3 linked regions of the Homo sapiens genome follow. The protein of the gene in region 2 purifies or fractionates together with the protein of the main gene of each other region. This does not show direct contact. Each region holds a gene or a part of one and is shown on either strand. Other genes may lie near its edges.

Region 1 (8,463 bases), on a different chromosome or scaffold from region 2:
AGAAGGGAGATAAGGGTGGGGCCGTTTTATAGGATTTGGGTAGATAAAGGAAAATTACAGTCAAAGGGGAGTTGTTCTCTGGCGGGCAGAGTGGGGGTTGCAAGATGCTCAGTGGGGGAGCTTTTTGAGCCAGGATGAGCCAGGAAAAGGACTTTCACAAGGTAATGTCATCAGTTAAGGCAAGGACTGGCCATTTTCACTTCTTTTGTGGTGGAATGTCATCAGTTAAGGCGGGGCAGGGCATATTCACTTCTTTTGTGATTCTTCAGTTATTTCAGGCCATCTGGGCGTATACGTGCAAATCACAGGGGATGTGATGGCTTGGCTTGGGCTCAGAGGCCTGACACAGACCTTTTTTTTTTTGAGACAGAGTCTTGCTCTGTCACCCAGGCTGGAGTGCAGTGGCACGATCTCAGCTCACTGCAAGCTCCGCCTTCTGGGTTCGTGCCATTCTCCTGCCTCAGCCTCCCGAGTAGGTGGGACTTCAGGTGCCCACCACCATGCCCAGCTAATTTTTTGTATTTTTAGTAGAGACGGGGTTTCACCTTGTTAGCCAGAATGGTCTCAATCTCCTGACCTTGTGATCCGCCCGCCTTGGCCTCCCAAAGTGCTGGGATTACAGGCATGAGCCACCCCGCCGGCGGACTGTAACATTATTATGCAGATGAAGCCTACAGGTAGCAAGCTTCAGAGATAATAGATTGTAAATGTTTCTTATCAAATTTAAAAAGATGCCAGAGGCCAGGCATGGTAGCTCATGCCTATAATTCCAGCACTTTGGGAGGCCGGAAAGCCGAAGTGGGTGGATCACCCGAGGTCAGGAGTTCAAAACCAGCCTGACCAACATGGTGAAACTCCATCTCTACTAAAAATACAAAAATTAGCTGGGTGTGCTGGCACATGCCTGTAATCCCAGCTACGAGGGAGGCTGAGGCAGGAACTACTAGGGAGACTGAGGCAGGAGAATCGCTTGAACCCAGGAGGCGGAGGTTGCAGTGAGCTGAGATGGCGCCATTGCACTCCAGCCTGGGCAACAAGAGTGAAACTCTGTCTCAAAAATAAATACATACGTACATACATACATACATATGTAAGATGCCAGATTCGGCTGGGCACAGTGGCTCCCACTTGTAATCCCAGCACTTTGGGAGGCTGAGGTAGGCAGATCACAGGGTTAGGAGTTTGAGACCAGCCTGGCCAACACAGTGAAACCCTGTCTTTACTGAAAATACAAAAAATTAGCCGGGCATGGTGGCAAGTGCCTGTAATCCCAGCTACTCAGGAGGCAGAGGCAGGACAATCGCTTGAACCCAGGAGGCGGAGGTTGCAGTAAGCTGAGATCACACAATTACACTCCAGCCTGGGTAACAGAGCAAGACTCTGTCTCAAAAAAAAAAAAAAAAAAAGCCAAATTCTTAGTGAAGTCTCTCCTGGATCAGGAAAAAGACCTAGAAATGGAAAGGGACTCTGGAGAATGTAGATTTTCCCCACAGGGACAGCTTTGCAGGGCCATTTCAAAGTATGTCAAATAAGTATATTTTAGGGTAAAATACATCAATATCTATCATGTGATACTAAAGTCAGGATAGTGTCTTTTTTTTTTGAGACAGAGTCTCACTCTGTCGCCCAAGCTGGAGTGCAGTGCTGCGATCCCAGCTTACTGCAACCTCCGCCTCCCAGATTCAAGCCTCAGCCTCCTGAATAGCTGGGGTTACAGGCACGCACCACCATGCCTCGCTAATTTTTGTATTTTATTTTATTTTATTTTTTTTTGTAGATGGAGTTTTGCTCTTGTCACCCAGGTTAGAGTGCAATGGCGCAATCTCGGCTCACTGTAACCTCCGCCTCCTGGGTTCAGGTGATTCTCCTGCCTCAGCCTCCTGAGTAGCTGGGACTACAGGCATGTACCACCATGACCCACTAATTTTTTTTTTTTTTTGAGATGGAGTCTCACTCTGTTGCTCAGGCTAGAGTGCAGTGGCGCAATCTCGGCTCACTGCAACCTTCCACGTCTTGGATTCAAGCAATTCTCCTGCCTCAGCCTCCTGAGTGTCTGGGATTACAGGCTTGTGCCACCACGCCCGGCCAATTTTTGTATTTTTATTAGAGACAGGGTTTCACCATGTTGGCCAGGCTGGTCTCGAACTCCTGACTTCAGGTGATCCGCCTGCCTTGGCCTCCCAAAGTGCTGGGATTACAGGCATGAGCCACCGCGCCCAGCCGAATTTGATGTCTTATTGCTACATTCTTGAATGTACTGCAAAAAAGTCTTAAGATCTCTGGCTTTTTTTTTTTTTTTTTTTTTGGAGACAGAGTCTTGCTCTGTCACCCAGGCTGGAGTGCAGTGGCGCAATCTCGGCTCATTGCAAGCTCCGCCTCCCAGGTTCACGCCATTCTCCTGCCTCAGCCTCCCGAGTAGCTGGGACTGCAGGCGCCTGCCACCACGCCCGGCTAATTTTTTGTATTTTTAGTAGAGATGGGGTTTTACCGTGTTAGCCAGGATGGTCTCCATCTCCTGGCCTCGTGATCCACCTGCCTCGGCCTCCCAAAGTGTTGGGATTACAGGCGTGAGCCACTGCGTCCGGCCCTTTTTTTTTGTTTTTTTTGAAACAGGGTCTTGCCCTGTCACTCACGCTGTAGTGCAGTGGCATAATTATGGTTCACTGCAACCTCAACCTCCTGTGATTAAGAGATCCTCTCACTTCAGACTCCCAAGTAGCTGAGACTATAGGCGCACACCGTTATGCCTGGCTAACGTTTGTATTTTCGTAGAAATGGGGTTTTGCCATGTTGCCCAGGCTGGTCTCAAACTCCTGGGTTCAAGTGATCTTCCCAACTCTGTCTCTCAAAGTGTTGGGATTATAGGCATGAGCCACCATGCCCAGCCTAAAATCTCTGTTGTAATGTTAATGCTGGTCAGTTGTGCCTCAATTCCAAAGGGAGGAGAGTATAATGAAACATGCCTAACTTCCACTTCCCATTATGGCCTGAACTATTATCATTGTTGAGGTTAACGTTGGAATGTCTTTGACTGGGAGGAAGGGTCCATTCAGATGGTTGGAGGGGATTAGAATTTTATTTTTAATTTACAGAGGGAAGAGCATAATCAAGGAAAGATTAGTATCTGCTGCAATCCCTCAGATCCTCTCCTCTCAGACCTCAGCTGGCAACTGGAAGCATTGAGATGGCTCCACTCTGGCTCCAGCACTAATGTCTGAGTAGCTGGAATGTCACTTTGTCTCTCTAGACCTCTGCTGCTGTAGCAATTCTGGTTTGAACTAGATGATCTTGTAATTCCCAGATGGGTTCTTCCTGCCTACTGCACAAACAAAATCAATTCAGAGACCATAGCATTGCAGAAAAGAACGAGTTTAACTGACACAAGACCTGCCATGCCACACAGGAGACAGGGTTATTACTCAATCAGTCTCACTGAAGGCTTGGAGGTCGGGGTTTTTCAAAGATAGTTTGGTAGGCAGGCGGCTAGGATATGGGTGCTACTGATTGCTTGGGAATGAAATCATAGTAGTGTGGAAAATGGCCCTCCTGCACTGAGTCTGCTTCTGGGTAGGGGTCACAGGACTGGTGGAGTCACACGTCAGTGTGGGGCCATTCCATAGTCACAAATGCAAAAGCCTGGAAGAGATAGCTCAAAAGATCAGTCTTACATTCCATGATAGTGATGTTAATTACAGGAGTAACTGGCAAAGTTGCAAATCTTGTGACTTCCAGAACAATGGCTGGTAATCCTTTAACTATGCCTACATCTTAGTAGAATTCAGGCCCCTCTCATCCTCCTAACTTGGTGGCCTTTCATTAGTTTTACAAGGGTGGTTTAGTTTTCAGGAAGGCGTATTCTAATTTAAAGTATAAGCTAAATTTATCCAAAAGTTACCTTGGCCCATGCCCAGGAATGAGTGAAGACAGCCAGCCTGTGAGGCTAGAAAGCAAGATGCAGTCAGCCATGTCAGATTTCTCTTACTGTCATAATTTTGCAAAGGCAGTTTCAATTTTTTTTTTTTTTTGAGATGGAGTCTCACTGTCTTACCAGGCTGGAGTGCAATGGTGCGCTCTCAGCTCACTGCAACCTCTGACTCCCTGGTTCAAGCGATTCTCCTGCCTCAGCCTCCTGAGTAGCTGGGATTACAGGCACGTGCCACCATGCCCAGCTAATTTTTTTGTATTTTTAGTAGAGACAGGGTTTCACCATGTTGTCCAGGATGGTCTCCATCTCCTGACCTCGTGATCCGCCCACCTTGGCCTCCCAAAGTGCTGGGATTACAGGCGTGAGCCACTGCGCCCGGCCTAAAAATATTTTTAGTAGTGACGGGGTTTCACCTCGTTGGCCAGACTGGTCTCGAACTCCTGAGCTCAGGTGATCTGCCCGCCTCGGCCTCCCAAAGTGCTGGGATTACAGGCGTGAGACACTGCACCCAGCCCATCTGTCGTTCTTCTCTCTAGACTGTGAGCTCCAAGAACGCAGCACTATTCCTGTAATGCATCTGTGCATGCTTTCCCTTGGTAGACCCTGGAACACAGCAGGTGAATGCTTCAAGGGACAGTCTCAACCCTGTGCACCCTGCCTTAGTGGCTACTGAATGCTTGCATGATTGCATTTGAACCTCACAACAGCCTGAGACGCTGCCAGCACTCAAAAAATTACCTGCCATCTCGCTGTTGAGAAGAGGGGCCTGAAAGAGGCGATCAAGCTGCAAACCCAGGCTCAGAAGCCAACTGCCTGGATTTAAGTTTAGCTCAATTCCTTACCAGATATTTGGCAAGCCACTTAATATTTCTCTCTCTCTCTTTTTTGAGACGGAGTTTTGCTCTTGTCGCCTGGGCTGGAGTGCAATGGCACGATCTGAGCTCACTGCAACCTCTGCCTCCTGGGTTCAAGTGATTCTCCTGGCTCAGCCTCCCAAGTAGCTGGGATTACAGGCGCCCACCACCACGCCCAGCTCTTTTTTGTATTTTTAGTAGACACAGGGTTTCACCACGTGTGCCAGACTGGTCTCAAACTCCTGACCTCAGGTGATCCACCCGCTTTGGCCTCCTAAAGTGCTGGGATTACAGGGCTGAGTCACAGAGCCCGGCCACGCCATTTAATCTCTCCAAGCCTCGTTTCCTCCACTGTACGATGGGGATAGCACCTACTTCAGAGATTGCTACGCCGAATAAAAGGAGCTGGCATATCATGCCTAACATATAACAAGCACGTGATAGAGGTCAGTGACTAGCTTTAGCCTCAGGCCAGCAGCCTCCCGCTCTCCCTACCCTGCGCGCCCCACGTGCCTCCTGTAAACAAGAGAACGCGCAGGCGCCGCAAACCAGCGCCCATTGGTCGGCGTGCCGTCGCCCCGCTGGAGGGAGGACTCAGGCCCCGCTGGCCGCGGGCTCGGTACCCGGTGGGTCGGTGGAGCGTCTGTTGGGTCCGGGCCGCCGGCTTCGCCCTCGCCATGGCGCCCTGGCTGCAGCTCCTGTCGCTGCTGGGGCTGCTCCCGGGCGCAGTGGCCGCCCCCGCCCAGCCCCGAGCCGCCAGCTTTCAGGCCTGGGGGCCGCCGTCCCCGGAGCTGCTGGCGCCCACCCGCTTCGCGCTGGAGATGTTCAACCGCGGCCGGGCTGCGGGGACGCGGGCCGTGCTGGGCCTTGTGCGCGGCCGCGTCCGCCGGGTGAGGACGCGCCGGGGGCGGGGGCGCCAGGCCCGGGTCCAAGGGATAGGAGCTTTGACCTAACATTGGGATGGGGCCTGCCCGCTGGACGAACCGATCTCTGGTGATGGGGAATGGGCAGCGCCGCACGGGCGGGGCCTTGGGCGCCGTCAAGGGCCGACTGTGCCCGCCTCACCTACTCCTCTCTCCAGGCGGGTCAGGGGTCGCTGTACTCCCTGGAGGCCACCCTGGAGGAGCCACCCTGCAACGACCCCATGGTGTGCCGGCTCCCCGTGTCCAAGAAAACCCTGGTGAGTGATGAGGCTCTTGGGGTTCCCCGCCCCGAGGCCGAGTAAAGCAGCAGTTGGATGATGACGGGTCAGGTCAAGACGCAGGGATCTGAGGTAGCTGCTGCCCCACCTTGAGCCACTTCCCAGGCCCCGAGGGCTGGAAACCAAGATGCTATGAAGGGGAGGATGCCCCGGTGCAGGCCGTGCCTCACTGTCCACTGTGATGGGGTGATTGCCTTAGGGGTGGCTCTCATCTGAGGAGCCTCCAGCTCCATCTTGGCCAGATCTTGCTCCCCAGATCCAGATCCAGGCCCCCAGAGCAGCTTCTTCCTCTCCCTCCAGCTCTGCAGCTTCCAAGTCCTGGATGAGCTCGGAAGACACGTGCTGCTGCGGAAGGACTGTGGCCCAGTGGACACCAAGGTTCCAGGTGCTGGGGAGCCCAAGTCAGCCTTCACTCAGGGCTCAGCCATGATTTCTTCTCTGTCCCAAAACCATCCAGACAACAGAAACGAGACTTTCAGCTCAGTCATTTCCCTGTTGAATGAGGATCCCCTGTCCCAGGTGAGGAGCCCTCAGCTTGAGGAGCCCTCAGCTTGAGGAGCCAGCCGCTGCCTCATCACCCTTCTCCCTTCCCTCTGGAGTGGGTTTCTCTGGTCAGCCTAAAGACTGGTCTGCCTATCCAGGACTTGCCTGTGAAGATGGCTTCAATCTTCAAGAACTTTGTCATTACCTATAACCGGACATATGAGTCAAAGGAAGGTGAGGACCCAGCCTTGGCTGTACCTGTTCCTATCAGAACAGGACTTTCCCCCCAACTTGGCACCTTGGTGTGTGGGAGGAGAAAGACAAGAGGCAGTGTACCTGTTCAAGGACCCCATAATTCCTGAGCTCTCCCTAAGCCTTCCCAGCCTGGCAGCCACCCTGAGTACCTGGCCCCTTCTCCTACCTTATCTTCCCGCTCAGAAGCCATGGGTCTTGGCCGGGCGTGGTGGCTCACCTCTGTAATCGCAGTACTTTGGGAGGCCGAGGTGGGCAGATTACCTGAGGTCAGGAGTTCAAGACCAGCCTGGCCAACATGGTGAAACCCCATCTCTACTAAAAAAAAAGTACAAAAATTAGCCAGGTGTGGTGGCGCACACCTGTATACCAGCTACTCGGGAGGCTGAGGCAGGAAAATCACTTGAACCTGGGAGGCGGAGGTTGCAGTGAGCAAAGATTGTGCCACTGCACTCCAGCATGGGTGACAAGCGAAAACTCTGTCTCAAAAAAAAAAAAAAGAAGCTCTGCATCTCCATCACTCTGGCAGGGTGGGATGGGGCAGAGGCTGGATTTTTTGTGCTGGAGAGTCCTTGACAACATGGCCTTTCCCCACCACCTCTTGTGGGTGGTGTCCTTTAGACCCCATTTACTGCTTTTGCACCTGGGAAGTCATCACTTCAGTTTGGCCCTAAAAGTTGATCAGACCTCCCACTCCATCACTTGCATGTCTGGCCCCCACCCCTACCTGCTCCCCGGGGAAACCCCTGCCTGCTAGCCCCAATTGCCCTTCCTTTTATCTGCCTGGGGTCGAACCCCTCCTCTTCTGCTCCTTGGTCCTCAGAAGCCCGGTGGCGCCTGTCCGTCTTTGTCAATAACATGGTGCGAGCACAGAAGATCCAGGCCCTGGACCGTGGCACAGCTCAGTATGGAGTCACCAAGTTCAGTGATCTCACAGGTAGGGATAGTGGCCACAGTCCTCATGGATCCAGGAAGAGACAGGACCTTGCTCGCAAGGCCTCTGGTCAGGTCTGGCTTAGAACACTCTTCCTCCCCATGCCCTGCCCACCTTTGCCCGCAGAGGAGGAGTTCCGCACTATCTACCTGAATACTCTCCTGAGGAAAGAGCCTGGCAACAAGATGAAGCAAGCCAAGTCTGTGGGTGACCTCGCCCCACCTGAATGGGACTGGAGGAGTAAGGGGGCTGTCACAAAAGTCAAAGACCAGGTTGGACCCCTGGAAGTGAGGGTGGGACATGGGCACTGCACTGGGGCTGACGAAGGGGCCCGGCTCTGACTCCAACTCCACCCATCTCTTGTAGGGCATGTGTGGCTCCTGCTGGGCCTTCTCAGTCACAGGCAATGTGGAGGGCCAGTGGTTTCTCAACCAGGGGACCCTGCTCTCCCTCTCTGAACAGGGTGAGCATCTCGCTCTACTCCTCTGTCCCCAGCCTAGCCCCTCAGGAGGGCTTCTTGGGACCAGCCTTCTGTCTCCTAGAGCTCTTGGACTGTGACAAGATGGACAAGGCCTGCATGGGCGGCTTGCCCTCCAATGCCTACTCGGCCATAAAGAATTTGGGTATGCATTAATGGGGTCAGGAGGGGCAACCGGAGCCACTTCTCCCTGTACAAGAAGTTACTTCATAATGGGGGGGAGACATGAGCATGAGAGTTACACAGAACTGGGTCCAGGTCTTAATGCTGACCCAGCCAGGCGTGGTGGCTCATGCCTGTAATTCCAACACTTTGGGAGGCCAACTTGGGAAGATC
Region 2 (4,836 bases):
GTGGGATCAGGTTGGGAGCAGCTGTGTAGTGTATGCTCACAGAAAAGTAAACCAGAAAAACCAAGGCATCATTGTTGCTTGCCCTACATTTATCAAGATGATCAGATAACTAGAATGAGCAATTCAATAAACCTTTAAAGTATTTCACCACTTCCTGCTCATGGATTGCTCGCACAAGAGTTGCGTTGCTTCCTGAGACAAAATCTGAAGACTTAGGTTTGTACTGTTTCACTTTTACAAGCGGTACCAGACTTCCACCCTTTCTACAGGTGTCCTCAAACTCCCTACACCACCTCATTTCCCTGGGTTGTTGCAGCTGTCTACACAAGATTACATTGGTTTTGATTGGGGTGCTGGCTATGGAGATGAGAAAGGGGGGATGAATCGGAGGGATTTTTGAGGGAGAACTCTCAGATCGTCTTAGCAACTAAATGAATAGTGGTTATGTCTCTAAACTTTGCGATTTGAAGATTTCTTGATGTAAACTCTGCCTCCATTTTTCAGGTCAAGTCTTAAAATCATCAGTGGGATCATTTCTGACTTCAGAATTCAACTTTTACCTTCAAATTTAACTGATTTCCCACCTTTTTTAATTAAAAAAAAAATCTATGGTTAAACTGTGCCATTCTGGGACCTTCCAAAAAGTTACTATTTTCCTTTACATTCATGTCCCGTGAATCCTGAACACCCCACCCTCTGATTTGTGTTTAATCAGTGTTGATGATTAGTTTAGTGAGCTGTGGAGTTGAGCTGAGGAGTTTGGTGAGGAGATTTAGAGTGAAGGCAATATTGCTGGAGACTGCTTAAAGAGACATAACTATTTCTAGGCACATTTTGGTTCCTTGAATGCACTCGCCACAGTGGTAGGTGAATTTGAATCATAACTACTTGGTGAATAGTGTTGGAATGATAAAGACCTCTTAAGGAAAGTTTTATTACCCTAGTTTATTGCTGGAGACACCTCGAACTTCTATTCCAAAATAATATGCATTTTAGACTGTTCTCCAGCCTGAATTTTACCCACTTGAATGAACTGAGTTGGGAATTTTTAAATGAATTGCATATTATAAGTAATAGTTTATGATATGGTCTCTGAATTTTTCTAAATTCTTATTATGGAGCAAGTCCATAGATGGGCTTAGAGGAAAGGCAGTTTTAACTCAAAAATTTTATTGCCAATATGTTGTCTTAAACATATAAAGGCAGCAGAAATACATTTTCAGGTATAAGTAGGCTCAAAATTTAAGGATCACTAACCATTCTTGAAAAATTTGCTTAAATACTCTGATGGACAAAAACAGTGTCAAAAATTAAGAACTTGAAATTGCATAAATGGCTGTTTAAAATGGCTGGCTTTTTTTTTCTCAAGGAAATCATCTGAAATATATGGAGAAAAACATTTGCAGTTTATCACTGTAGCATTATAAAATAGAGAAAAAAATAAAAGCAACTTAATAGTCAAACAATACATATATTTGATTTTTATGTGGTATTAAAAGATGTTAAATAACATGGAAAAAGAATTGTAACAATGTTAAATTTTAAAAGTTACATTTAAAATTATATTTTGAAATATACATAGTTATATTTATTCTAAGATAATTATTTCAACCATGCACAAAAAGAACTGAGGCAAACTAAGGTGATATTTTAACAATTTCTTCTGATGATAGAATTATAGCTCTTTTTCTCATTCTTTATGTTTGTTCAGAATGTGTATATTCTTTATATTTGTACAGAATTGTTCTGTAATGATCAAATATTACTATTATAAACAGATAAAAAATTATAGATATTTAAAAAATTGATAGAAAATATGCGGCAAAGATAAAATGTCTTTTTAAGATAAATTTCCTTTTTCTTAAATGGATCATTAGACTCAAGTATAAAATATGTATGCCTAGATATTAATCTCATATATAGAAAAAATAAATTGTAATCCTTGAGTAATCTAAATTGGTTGTCAAGTTTCATTTGGTAACTGTTATTCAACATTAGTCTCTTTCTTAAGTTTTCTCACTCTTTGTGTTTTGACATCTTTCAGGAGCAATACCGTTTCTGCTATGATGTAGCTTTGGAGTACCTGGAATCATCTTAGTTGGGTGAGACTCTTTAAAGTGCATCCATGAAGAAACCTGTCCATCTATTGAGCCAGCAGCTGTTGTACCTGTTACACTTGTGCAGAAAGATTTTAATGTGGGGGGTGGGAGACTTTTACATTTGAGAGGTAAAAGTATTTTTTTTATGAAGTTGTGTATCTTAATAAAAAGGACTGAATTAGTTTTTATTACTATATTAAAGCATCAACATTTCATGCCACATAAATTATATTTAATAAGAACCAGATTGAAATGAGAACGTATTGGTGTTTGTACAGTGAACATGCCACCTTTTTTCTCATGGTTTCAGTAGAGCAGCTACCACATGTTGCATGAGTTCATACTTTCTACGTGGCATTTTTCTCCCTTTCTAAAATGAAAGCTGATGAATCTTAAAAGGAAGAAGAAAAGAAAAGCTGTGCAAATTCATAGTAAAGTTCGTTTTTTATATGTTTCCAGTGTAGCAGATCTCTATATAAATATATAAATATATATAACTGGCTTATTTTCTTTTAATGTGCAATGATGGCTGGATCATTTAAAGTTCTTTTTAGAAAATAACATAAGCCAAAGACTCAAGTGTAAATATGTCTATATGGAGAAAGCACATTATATTTATTGGTTACTTACATTCCTTTTTTGATGGCTAAAATACTACCACCACACAATCATCTTTTTTTTCCTGAAGAAAGCTTTTTCTTTAGCTAAAATCAATTGTAAACGATTTTTGTAGATTATTTTTTGTATGTTTTAGTGTAAGTAGAAGATAAACTTTTTATTCATAAACCAGGAAGCAATGTTCTTTATAGTGATTCTCTTGTGTACATGCTTGTGAATTAAATTTGTGTAAAATCCCTTGGCAATTGGGTCTTTTAATATAGGACCAAATTAAAACATTTTGCTGAATATGTATAGTTTTTCACAATTTCATTAGGTAAATAATGGTTTGGTGATCATACATGAGAAATGTACACATTAAAAGGCCTTGCTGACAACTTGCACAATGTTGAACATAGCCTTTAAGCATCATTTAAATTTTAAAGGAATGGAGTTTTTCAGCCTGTGGCCCAGCACTGGTCAAGAAAACAAGATGGCAACATATATGCTTTCAGGGTCAAATTTGAGCAAACTGTAAACTGTCAGGGTGATAAAATGTTTCTCTTGATGTTTACATGCACAAGCTTTGCGTTCTGACTATAAAAAGTGTGAACAAATCAATGCCAGATTCCTGTTTTGCGCATTGTCATGGGATTCTTAAGTGAACCTTTCTAAATGTGGTCTTGTTCACATGCTCCACGTAGCTGTAACTTCACATCATCAGCTTGCAGTTTGTAATTGACTAAAGCATTCCAGTGTCCTCTTTCTAGATTGCCAGCTCATGACATGGTGCTTATAAAGATTTAATTAAAGTAAGAATGAAATAAAGTTTTTATAATTATAACAGTTATTGTTTGCACATCATTTTTTCCTCTTAATGTTTATGCATTCACCACTAAATGAGTAGCTTATTCCTATACTCGTTGATACAAGTAGGCCACAAAAACTCTATTTAAAGAGTAAAACTGATTTCCAACCTCTAGTTTCTTTTATTTTTATTTTCTTAATTTAATGCCAAAATGTCCAGTAGGTGGAGATGGAAAAGGCCAGGAGATTGACATCATTTTTTGTTTGTTGGTTTCTATATTTATCCATGTATGTAATACACATTTTCCATTTGTGTTTGTCACTATCCATTTATATAATACACATCTTACTTTTTTCTTATAACCAACATGACAAATGGTACTTATGATCCCTATTTTACAGATGATGAAATGGAAGCTAATGAGAAGGTACATGATTTGTCAACAGATTCATTCCTACTTAGCAGCTATGTCTTTACCACTAAACACATTGTTTCCCAAATGTCACAAAGATAGACAAAAAAATTTAGAATTTCATTTCTATTGTTCCTCATTAATCAATTTTCTCTTAAAGTATTATTATCATAATGGACATCTTCAATCTCCCATTTGCTATGTACTTTATTAGAAAATGCGTGACTTTTTAAAAAATTCAGATAAAGCAAACTTTTCTTAGGAAAGCTGATTTTCATTTAAACATGGAGGCATTTAACAAAAAAAAATCCACAAACTCGCCCAAGATTTTTTTTACCCGGTAATGTTTATTATGTTATCCTATAGAAGATTCTGTTTCACTGTGTGACACTGACTTCATTTCTGCTCATGACTGCACCACACACCAGCAAAGTTATCATGAGCACAACTGTCCACAAAGCTCAGAGGTCTGTGCAGCCTCTGTAATTCAAAGAACAAGAGTTCTCTTTCTTTGTAACAGGAAATTGAAATATCATGCTTGCTTTGTTTGGGCACCACAGAAGCCACTTGATCAGGAGACAATGGAAGAGGGGTTGCCTGTTGCTCTCAAAACTCATATTCAAAAGCTCATATCTTATACCCTTAAGGGCTCCCTAAGTAGTCTTGTGCATGACTATGTTCTCCGACACCCCCAGCCATGTCCCTCTGGGCGGATGTCCTGGTGCTGGCTGGGGGTGGGGTCCTCTTCCACTGGCACAGCTCTACATGCTTTTCATAGTTTAGGGCTTCCTATTCCTAATTTAGTTATTCCTTAAATGGCTGTCATGTCGTTGAATTTTACAGACCCCCTTTCTATAACTATCACTAAGGAGATGTTGGAAGTGTGTGGGCCAGAGACACACCAGCAACTGGGAATTTTT
Region 3 (8,493 bases), on a different chromosome or scaffold from region 2:
AAGCCCTGGCAGGCCCGCCCAGAAGACATTGAGCCCTCAGAAAGCCTTAGAACCCAACTGTAGTTCTGGCAGCAACTGTCCTCTGAACCAGGCTATGCAGCAAAGACAGGAGGTCAGTGACTCAGAACAGGCAGGGGATTCCTGGCCAGTGAGGGCTGCTGAGCAGGGGTGGACCCCAAAAGCACATTCACATAATACATCTCAGCCCACAGGGAATGGGACCATGCTAATTTCTATGCAATCACAGCGTGTTCTCCAAGGCACCTCAGCCGCCCCTCTCTTCTCTTGCTCCCTGGGAGGGTGTGGGTGTGTACGTGGGCTGCTTAGTAATGAGGACCAACTCCAGCCTGGGTGTGCTTTGTGATTCCATAGATGAAGGTTTGTGGACAGAATCTCTTTTTCTCTGCAGCATTTTTGAGTGGAAGAGTAGGAGAGAAGGAGGGACCCCGAGGTGATGGACAACAATGACCCCATAAGCAAAGGGATATTTCTGGTGAGCCCAGCTGTTTTTCCTAGAAAACCAACCAAGAGAAGAACTGCAGTTGTACAGTTGGGAAATAGGTTTGCCTCCGGATGGAACTTTCAGGTTTTAAGAGAACATTCCCATGGATTTGTATAATGCTTTCTGGCTTGTGAAGCTCTTTCATAGTCAGCATCTTGCAAGACATGAAATGCAAGGGACATTATTCCACTTTATAAAGGAGGAAACTGAGGCACCAAGAGATTTACCCAGGGATTATGTGACCAAATGATTAGTTTCTCCTTTGGGGGGATTCTTTTAGAAAAAATAAGAGAGGAAGGCCCTTTTCCTGACCCTTAGTGCTAGGAATAGAGCAAAAAAAAAAATAAGTCCTGAGCCTCAGCCTTCACCTTCCATGCCTGGAGCCCAGTTGTCCACACTCCCCTACCCCACCCCTCCTCTGAAGCCTTCTGACCTTGCAAATGCCAGAGCCTTGCAAACTGTTCCAGGGACCTATTTAAGTAGGTTTGGGACTGCAGTTGCCTGGGCTTCACAGAGAATATTCTTCTCCCAGAGCAACACACTAGATGGATGGAGGAGGGGAGGGAGGGTTAGGGAAAGAGGACGAGGTATACAGGGACATAAGCTCTGCTCGTGGGAGGTTTAGTGAGAAAGGAGCGAAATCCTGCCTTGTTTGATTTGGAGCCTTAACAGGCTTGCTACTGTTTAAAGTACACAGGAAAGTGGGATTTGTGAAGGGAGGAGAGGGGAGGGGAGGGGAGGGAAGGGTGACGTCTTTATGAATGGTACTGAGAACCCCGGAGCAGATGCCCTGTTCCTGTGTCCTGGGCTGCCAGCCCCGTTGCCTGGGCTGAGACCCACCACTCTGGCATCCCGCAGTCTCTCTCTTCCATTCACAGGACTTGGCCCACACACTCCAGGCTGGCCTGTCTGGACCAATCCCTTTGTTCCTAACAATGTAGGGGTTAAGGGGAGGCTGCTCTGCTGCTGGGGTTGCCTGACAGCATCTGCTGGATGAAGGTGAGGTACCTGGTAGGGAGACAGAAGGGACCACATTCCTGCCTGTCTATAGTGGCAAGCCTGGGCTCAGGGCAAGTGAAAGATGACATGCATCTTAGAGCAGAGACCAATCAACTTGGTGGTGGCATCAGTGGTCTCAGCTTTGGGAGCCAGGTACAAACCGGGCAACAGCCAGTGCACCATCCAAACATTGCCCTCTGACACTGGCAAGCAGGAGCACCCTTGGCTCCCAAGCACAGGTCCAGGCACACATCCTCCTGAGCCCACCTCCCAGCCGACTCAAGGCACCGTAAATATATGCATGCACACACTCTCAGGCAGCATTCCCATGCTAAACACTGATAGCTTGCCACCCCCCGCCTCTAAAGGGAACAGACTTGATGCTGAAAGCCTGCCAAAGTGTGGCTGGCTTCCAGCACCAAAAATACCTCCTGTGATCCGAGGGGCTACTGTACTGGCATCTATTTGTGGGGCTGGAGCTGCTGCTGTGACATAAAGGACTTCCCCTAGGGATGGGCTAGTTGCCCATTTGGGCCTGTGCTCCCCAAAGTCTAAGAGCTTGCTTTCCAGGGCCAAGGCCTGCTCCCAGCCTGGAAAATGCAGGTGGCAGCATCTTAGCCAAACCTGCCTTCCACAGGAGAAATATTCATTCTTCACAGGAAACATTCTGTGGCATTCCAGAATGTTGGTGCCCTGTCCTCTCCCACTTCTCTCATTCTCTTGCTTAAGTAACCCATCTAGTTACTTAGCTTGCTTCTTTGACAAGCAAAGAAGAGGCCTGGGGCCTGGAACAAGAATGCAGAAGTGACAAATGACTTTCAAGGTGAGGTTCCAGGAATATCTTGACTAGGGAAGGTAGGTAGGTTGGGGTGAGTGGAGAACCCTGTTGAGTGTGCTATGATTTTCCAATGATGAGGATTTGGCATAAGATAAACATTTCCCCATTCATTCATTTGTTCATTCATTTGATAAATATTTGTTAAATATCGACAGCCTGCTCACAAATATGTTGCACTACATCTATCCTTCCAGATGGAAATGAGGACGAACTACAAGGCCCTGACAGAGGACTGGTCAGTCCCAAGGGGCTGTGGGCCTGATATCAGATGGACAGAATGAGGAAGAATATAGTGAAGGGCAGAAACATACAAGAAAACCAGAAACCTCAGAAAGAGATAGATCTGAGGTTATAGAATCTGTAGGGTTATTGCCATGCTTTCTTTAAAAATATGTGCCAAAGCAGTAATTATGGACTGTATATAGTTCCATTAAAGGAAGAAATTTAGTAAATTTGCTCTTCATAAATATTTGCGTAATAAATGAATGAATACCCAGATCAAAGGGAGAAGGTTAACGAGCAGATGTAAAGACTAGAGGTTCAGGTATACCGCTGTTGCCTCAGAGGATGTCAAATCTAAATACGAACCATGAACCCAAGGTTTTGGTTTTTTTTTAAATTCTCAGAGCATGTTATGGTAATTAGATGTTTAGCTAATAAGATCCATATTTGTTCTAGCCTATTAGGACTAAATATAACAACAATCTTTCCATTTTGATGATACTATTACTTCTTCCAACACGCTTACATATATCTATTTTAATTCCCCCAGTTGTCTGGAGAGTGAAGACAGAAATTCCCATCTTACAGATGGACAAACTGTGGCCTAGAGAAGTTAGAGGTACTTCATCCACTGTACCTCCCAGTAGATCAAGTTAGCGCTCTTTCCATTGCTATGCTGACCACAGGCTCTTCCATAGTCTCACAGGACTCAGATCTTAGACCCTGTTCAGTGGCAATGTGGAATCTGGATGGCGTCGTGCCACCCTGTCAGCCACAATGTGTCCTCCCGCCTGTGTTCCCTCTTTCTCTCCCTTTATTCAGGAAAGAGAGGGGAGGTGTGGGGATAAAAGATGGGGTGAGTGGAAGAGTCTGTTTCATTTTATGCTTCCTTGCTCTTCATTCTAAGATTTATTTCTGGACCACAGGAGTGGAGGGTGGCATATGAGAAAATTATTTCAATTGTATCATAATCTTCCCAAGGTGTGATTAAATTGAGGCATAGGGAAGAGAGGTGACCTCTTCCAGAGTCAGACACCACTTGATTTAGAACCAGAGGGCCCTAATTTTCAGCTTGGAGCTTTATCAATTAGATATCTCCAATCCTACCACGGCTGGTCTTAGGTGTAGCTGGCCAAACTCCATGAACAAATGGAGGAAGTGTTCCAAAATCTTCTAGCATCTTCTTCAAATCATCTTTTTTAATAAATTGTGGTTTAGATTCAGTCTACCCAGAGATAAAACGATCGACTAGTCTGTCTGCATGGGGAGACAAGATCTACTTATAAAAATAAATAAATAATAACACAGGGTAAATATGATAATTTATTGGTGTGTTACCAACAATGAATGCTAAAGAAGTTTGAAGGAAAGAACAGGTATGGATCAGGCAACACAGCTTAGACAGATTCTTTGTGGTCCCACAGGACAAAACTAGCAGTAGCCAGTGAAAGTTACAGGAACACAAATTTCAGCTAATTACAATGAAGAACTTTTGAAGAATTCGCTGATTTCTGCAGATGTTGGAGTAAAGCCTAGATCCCCCAGTCCTGTGTTGAATGTGCGATTGTTCGAGATGACTGGTTAGTCTAGATTTCCTTTTCTTCTTCCTCTCTCTCTCTCTTTTCTCCGGCTCCCTTTCTTCATCCTTCCCTCCCTTCGTTTCTTCTGCCGCTACTGCTCTAAGAATTTGGTGCAATTGCTTTTAGGTATTCGCAGTGATTTTTGTTGTTTTTTAGATTTATACCACTGAGGACTGTGGCCACGAGAGGGCAGTAGAGGAAGCTTATCAGAATACTTGGACAGGAGTAAACTCGTGTGCGCTCTAATCGCGAGCAGGGACTACGCAGATCCTGCGAACTCGCTGGGGTCCAGCTTGCAGGCCGCTTCCGGAAAGCCGTGTCTAGAGGCTGCGGAGTTACTGAGACTGTGTGGCGAGGAATCAGTGGCCTTGAGGGCACCGAGACATTGTCATCCAGAATCCCGAAACCTCTCACCTTAGGTTATTAAAATAAGTTATCTTATTGCCACCCCTCTGATTACCCTGCCAGAAAGATTCTCTGAATTGGATATAGAAAGCTCTTCTCCCGTCCCCAATGCCCCCATGCAAGTCGGGACTTACCAGATGCCCAGGATCCCTATCAGGGCTGGAAGTTTGAGATTCAATTCAGAGCAAGGTTCATCTTCTCATTGCAATAATAATAATAACAACAACTTCAAGCCTTATTTGACAGCTTGTTGGCCTTTTTCTTTTTTTAATTTACAAGAAGAGGAAATTTGCTCCCACAAATTCCAAGACTCTAGTCTCAACCCTACCAGACAAGCCCCGTTCCTCCCCACTCACCCCTCACTCAAATTACAGATGAAGAGGGAGGTGTGCAGGATGTGTGCGGTGACAGGTGATGCGAATGGGGGGGATTCCCTGTCCCTACTGCCCTCACCCACTCTTCCTGTGTTCTGAGCTCCCCCCTAACCCCAACGCTAGACCTTCTATTCCCCCGGGGGCCAAGCCAGCTGGGCTCGCAAGGCCCGACTCGAATTCCCGGGCCCTGGCAGCATTTTCCTTGCCCCCTTGGCTACTTAAGGTGGCCGATGGGTCCGGGCTGAGCTGGGCGCAGGACAGGCAGCCGAGCGGCCTCCGGATGCCAAACCTGCTTCTCCTTTGTTGACAGCTTGCGGAGGAGGAAGTCCGCGCGGGCGGGGGAGGGGGCAGGGTGCTGGCGGTGGCGGGCGGTGCCAGCAGCGGGCGCGGCCCCAGCCCGGGCGGACGCGGCCGGCGGGGAGGGGGTTAACGCGCGCGGCCTCTATGATAATGAGCTGCATGGTGAAATAGGGAGGCCGGCGCTCAGGGCTCCTCCGCCGCCGCCGCCGCCGCCGCCGCCGCCGCCACCGCGGGAGCCAGAGCTGCCGGGAGGAGCGGCATCCGCGCCAGACTGGAGCGGGAGGGCGGCGGAGGGCAGTTGCTGGGAATTTTTCAGCCGAGAGGGCGAGCGATCCGGAGAGAGACCCCGAGAGCTTGGGAGCGGTAGGGCGTGCGAGCGCCGCAGCCAGCGGAGCAAACCTCGAAATAGATCTGGAAAGCCAGGCTCCCGGAGGAAATGGGACTGTGAACGAACCGGAGAGCAAGAAGGGAAGGAAGCGCCGGGATTGCTGATGTCAGAGGAGCCCGGAAAGTCGCGCTGGAAAAATCTGAAGACAGCCGGGGCTCTGCTTCTTCCTCAGGAGAGACACCGCCGGCCGCCCCCACACGCCCCCTCGGCGCCTCCGGGTGCCCCCTGAGAGCCGGCGACAGCGCCCAGCCGGGCTGCTGCGGGGCGACGGAGGACTGAGGGGCGCGCGGAGCGGAGACCGAGGAGCGACTTCAGGAATACAGATAAGTGTCTGGTGGCTTGACGTGGATTTTAATGAATTTGGACTCCATGTGGATTTGGTCGTCTCCCTGATTCCGAGCTGCGGGCAGGGAGAGGGGCCTCGCGCCGCCCTCAGCAGCCGGCGGCGGCCGAGGTAGACCGAGCGGGGACGGAAGGACAGACCGACGTCGCCGAGCTGGGTAAGCGGCGGCTGGGCCGGGCGCTCGGAGTCGGCAGCGCCCTCCGCCCTCTCCCCACAGGCGCGCACACCCGTGGCGGCTTCTCCCGCGCCCGCCTCTTTGGGGTCCCGGCCCCAGAAGACCCGGCTTGGCCGCGGCGGGCGAGTCCCCGCGTGGGCTCGGCCACTTTCGCGGGCTGGAGCGCGGCGTGCGCGCGATCGCAGGCTCACTGGAGCCGCTGCCTCCCGCCGAGGGCTTCCCGGCCGGCAGCCCGCCGGCTTCCCGAATGCGGGCTGAGGGCGGCAGCAGCGCTCCGCGGCGCGCCTCCACCGCGCACCTGCCGGCGCTCTGCGGCTTTGGGGAGCTCGGGGCGGCAAGGCTGTCCTGAGAGCTGGAGCCCAAAGAGGGCCTCGGTGGCACCAGCGAGACAGCCCAAAGCCACACTGGCCAGCGATCGATTTGGGGGCGTTCACTCCAGTGCCGGGGTCCCTGGTGGCCGCCGGCTCTCCCTTCCGATCGGGGACTGGAGATCAGGGGAATGGGAAAACATCATTTGCGCGGGTTCCATAAGGCTCAGGGAGAGATTCCTAGGCACTGAATGGGTCTAAGTGTTTCATCTCCCGGGGCTCCCTTTGCGGTGTATCGCCCAGCAGGGGTCCAGCCCCTTAGTTTGAGCACCACAGGAGTGCTGGGGGTTGAAATGGGAGTTTGCTTAGGGTCCCAGAGGCTCCTTATGAACCATTTGAGAATGTTTCCTTCCATGTGCTCTTTCTTGCCCCACCCCACAAGTGAGGTAGGGATCCTAGAAAATTCTAGCCCTTTTTATCCATCCCACAGGTAGTCTCTATAATGCCAATCATGGTCTAGATGCCCAGAGAGTCACCAGAAACTACCATTTTAGATCCCCGAAAAAAGTCCACCTGTTTGGAATGACCCTTGCCCTAGTGGGAGCTACCTACTCAAACTCAGCTCTGCTCAGGAGGGATAGAAATAATGGTGGGGAGGAAGTTGGATAAAAGATTTGGGGCTCTAGGTCAGTAAGGGTCTAGAAATGAGAGCCCCATGAAGTGGGCAATGGAAATCTGAACAGGTCCCCTGTAGGAATCTTAGAGTGACAGTGGCACACCAGTAGAAAGTGCACAAGGGACATGAAGGCAGCATCAGTTTGAGGGGACTGGGACTGCCAGTCATAGCTTGAGGCAGTCACTTGGGGGCCCATCAGTTTGGAAGAACCCACAGAAATTTGGGGGCACATTCATTTCCTTCCATTCACGCGCACAGTGGACAAGGCTTATGAGCGGCAGGCCAAGATGAGTATCTTGGCTGGCCTGGGCTGGAGGCTTTGAGAGCAGGAGTCAGGTTTAGCTCTCCCCTCTCCCCACACAATAGCAGTCTCCCTCCTTTGCTGGGCTTCTTTCCCAGATCTTGAAACTTCACTCTTCCCTCTGGGTTGGCTTTGGATTCTGGGGCCTTCTACTGATTGACAGAGCCCCAGGAAGAGATAACCTTGGCTGGAGGAATTCAGCTATTCCTAACTGAAATGCACAACTTTTATGCAATAACCCCAGAAAGCTCCCAGAGTTGCTTGCAGCCCTCTCCCCTCTGACCTCCAGGCAAGAAAAGAGAAGAATTCATTAACTTCCCTCTCTCTTCACGGAGCACCATTTGAACTAATTACCTGGGATCTCTCCTTGGTGGTGGCCTGGAGGCTGAAGGGGCAGTGAAGAGAAAGGGTAGGGAACCAAGGAAACAGTGGAATCTGTCATAGCGAGGTTGTTTTTCATTCCCCTTCTTCCACCTGGCATCACCACCAACCCCTCCTCATTCCAGAACTTGCCCCTGCTGCCACCAACCAGCATTACCTAAAGGAGCTATTTCCCTCCACTCCGCAGCCGATCGTCTTCAGGGACCTGCTGATAAAGGGAGGGCAATGCAGATTACCCTCTCTGCTCCCTCACTGTCCTCAGCAAATTGCATTAGGATGGGGGCAAACTGGCTTGCAAAGCAGTTAAATGGAAATGACATTTGGAGCGATGTGCAGGGAAGATGCTGAGGAGCAGCAGTGGTAAAGTACCAGGAGATCTCTATCCAGGGACCATGAGTCTGCCAAGGAAATCCCAGCTGGTCCTTCTTTTTGGCAGGGCATAAGGACAGGGGTCCCTCAAAGCCTGGAGCAGGACAGGGGGGCTGGCTAGCTTTTCAGCCCAAGTCTAAATGAAGAGTATGGCAGTGTCTTATGTCCATCGCCCAAAACCATGTCATTACAAGGTTGGTGGCCCCCCTTTCAGAGCTAGTCTGAATACCTATCCCTGTCTTCAGAGCACCAGGGAACATTCACCCTGCAACTCTCTTGACCATCAAAAGCTGCAGATGCGGTGAATGTAAAAGTTCCTTCACCATCTGTTT

The links. The genes of interacting proteins can lie anywhere in the genome.
Region 1: the proteins of PTPRK (region 2) and CTSF purify together in Homo sapiens (affinity purification with mass spectrometry; 3 studies listed by BioGRID and IntAct, with this or other methods). This does not show direct contact.
Region 3: the proteins of PTPRK (region 2) and PLXNA2 purify together in Homo sapiens (affinity purification with mass spectrometry; 3 studies listed by BioGRID and IntAct, with this or other methods). This does not show direct contact.

Annotation. Positions count from the first base shown.
Region 1 is NC_000011.10:66,565,480-66,573,942, reverse strand, and holds the start of CTSF (cathepsin F precursor), read left to right. Parts: upstream 1-5,336; 5' UTR 5,337-5,456; coding exon 5,457-5,669; exon of another isoform or gene 5,670-5,739; coding exon of another isoform or gene 5,740-5,772; intron 5,773-5,860; coding exon 5,861-5,959; intron 5,960-6,280; coding exon 6,281-6,499; intron 6,500-6,621; coding exon 6,622-6,697; intron 6,698-7,538; coding exon 7,539-7,652; intron 7,653-7,775; coding exon 7,776-7,921; intron 7,922-8,015; coding exon 8,016-8,112; intron 8,113-8,191; coding exon 8,192-8,272; intron 8,273-8,463. UniProt on the Homo sapiens protein: Thiol protease which is believed to participate in intracellular degradation and turnover of proteins. Has also been implicated in tumor invasion and metastasis.
Region 2 is NC_000006.12:127,967,489-127,972,324, reverse strand, and holds the end of PTPRK (receptor-type tyrosine-protein phosphatase kappa isoform b precursor), read left to right. Parts: intron 1-2,044; coding exon 2,045-2,098; 3' UTR 2,099-3,540; downstream 3,541-4,836. UniProt on the Homo sapiens protein: Regulation of processes involving cell contact and adhesion such as growth control, tumor invasion, and metastasis. Negative regulator of EGFR signaling pathway. Forms complexes with beta-catenin and gamma-catenin/plakoglobin.
Region 3 is NC_000001.11:208,241,258-208,249,750, reverse strand, and holds the start of PLXNA2 (plexin-A2 precursor), read left to right. Parts: upstream 1-5,366; 5' UTR 5,367-6,108; intron 6,109-8,493. UniProt on the Homo sapiens protein: Coreceptor for SEMA3A and SEMA6A. Necessary for signaling by SEMA6A and class 3 semaphorins and subsequent remodeling of the cytoskeleton. Plays a role in axon guidance, invasive growth and cell migration.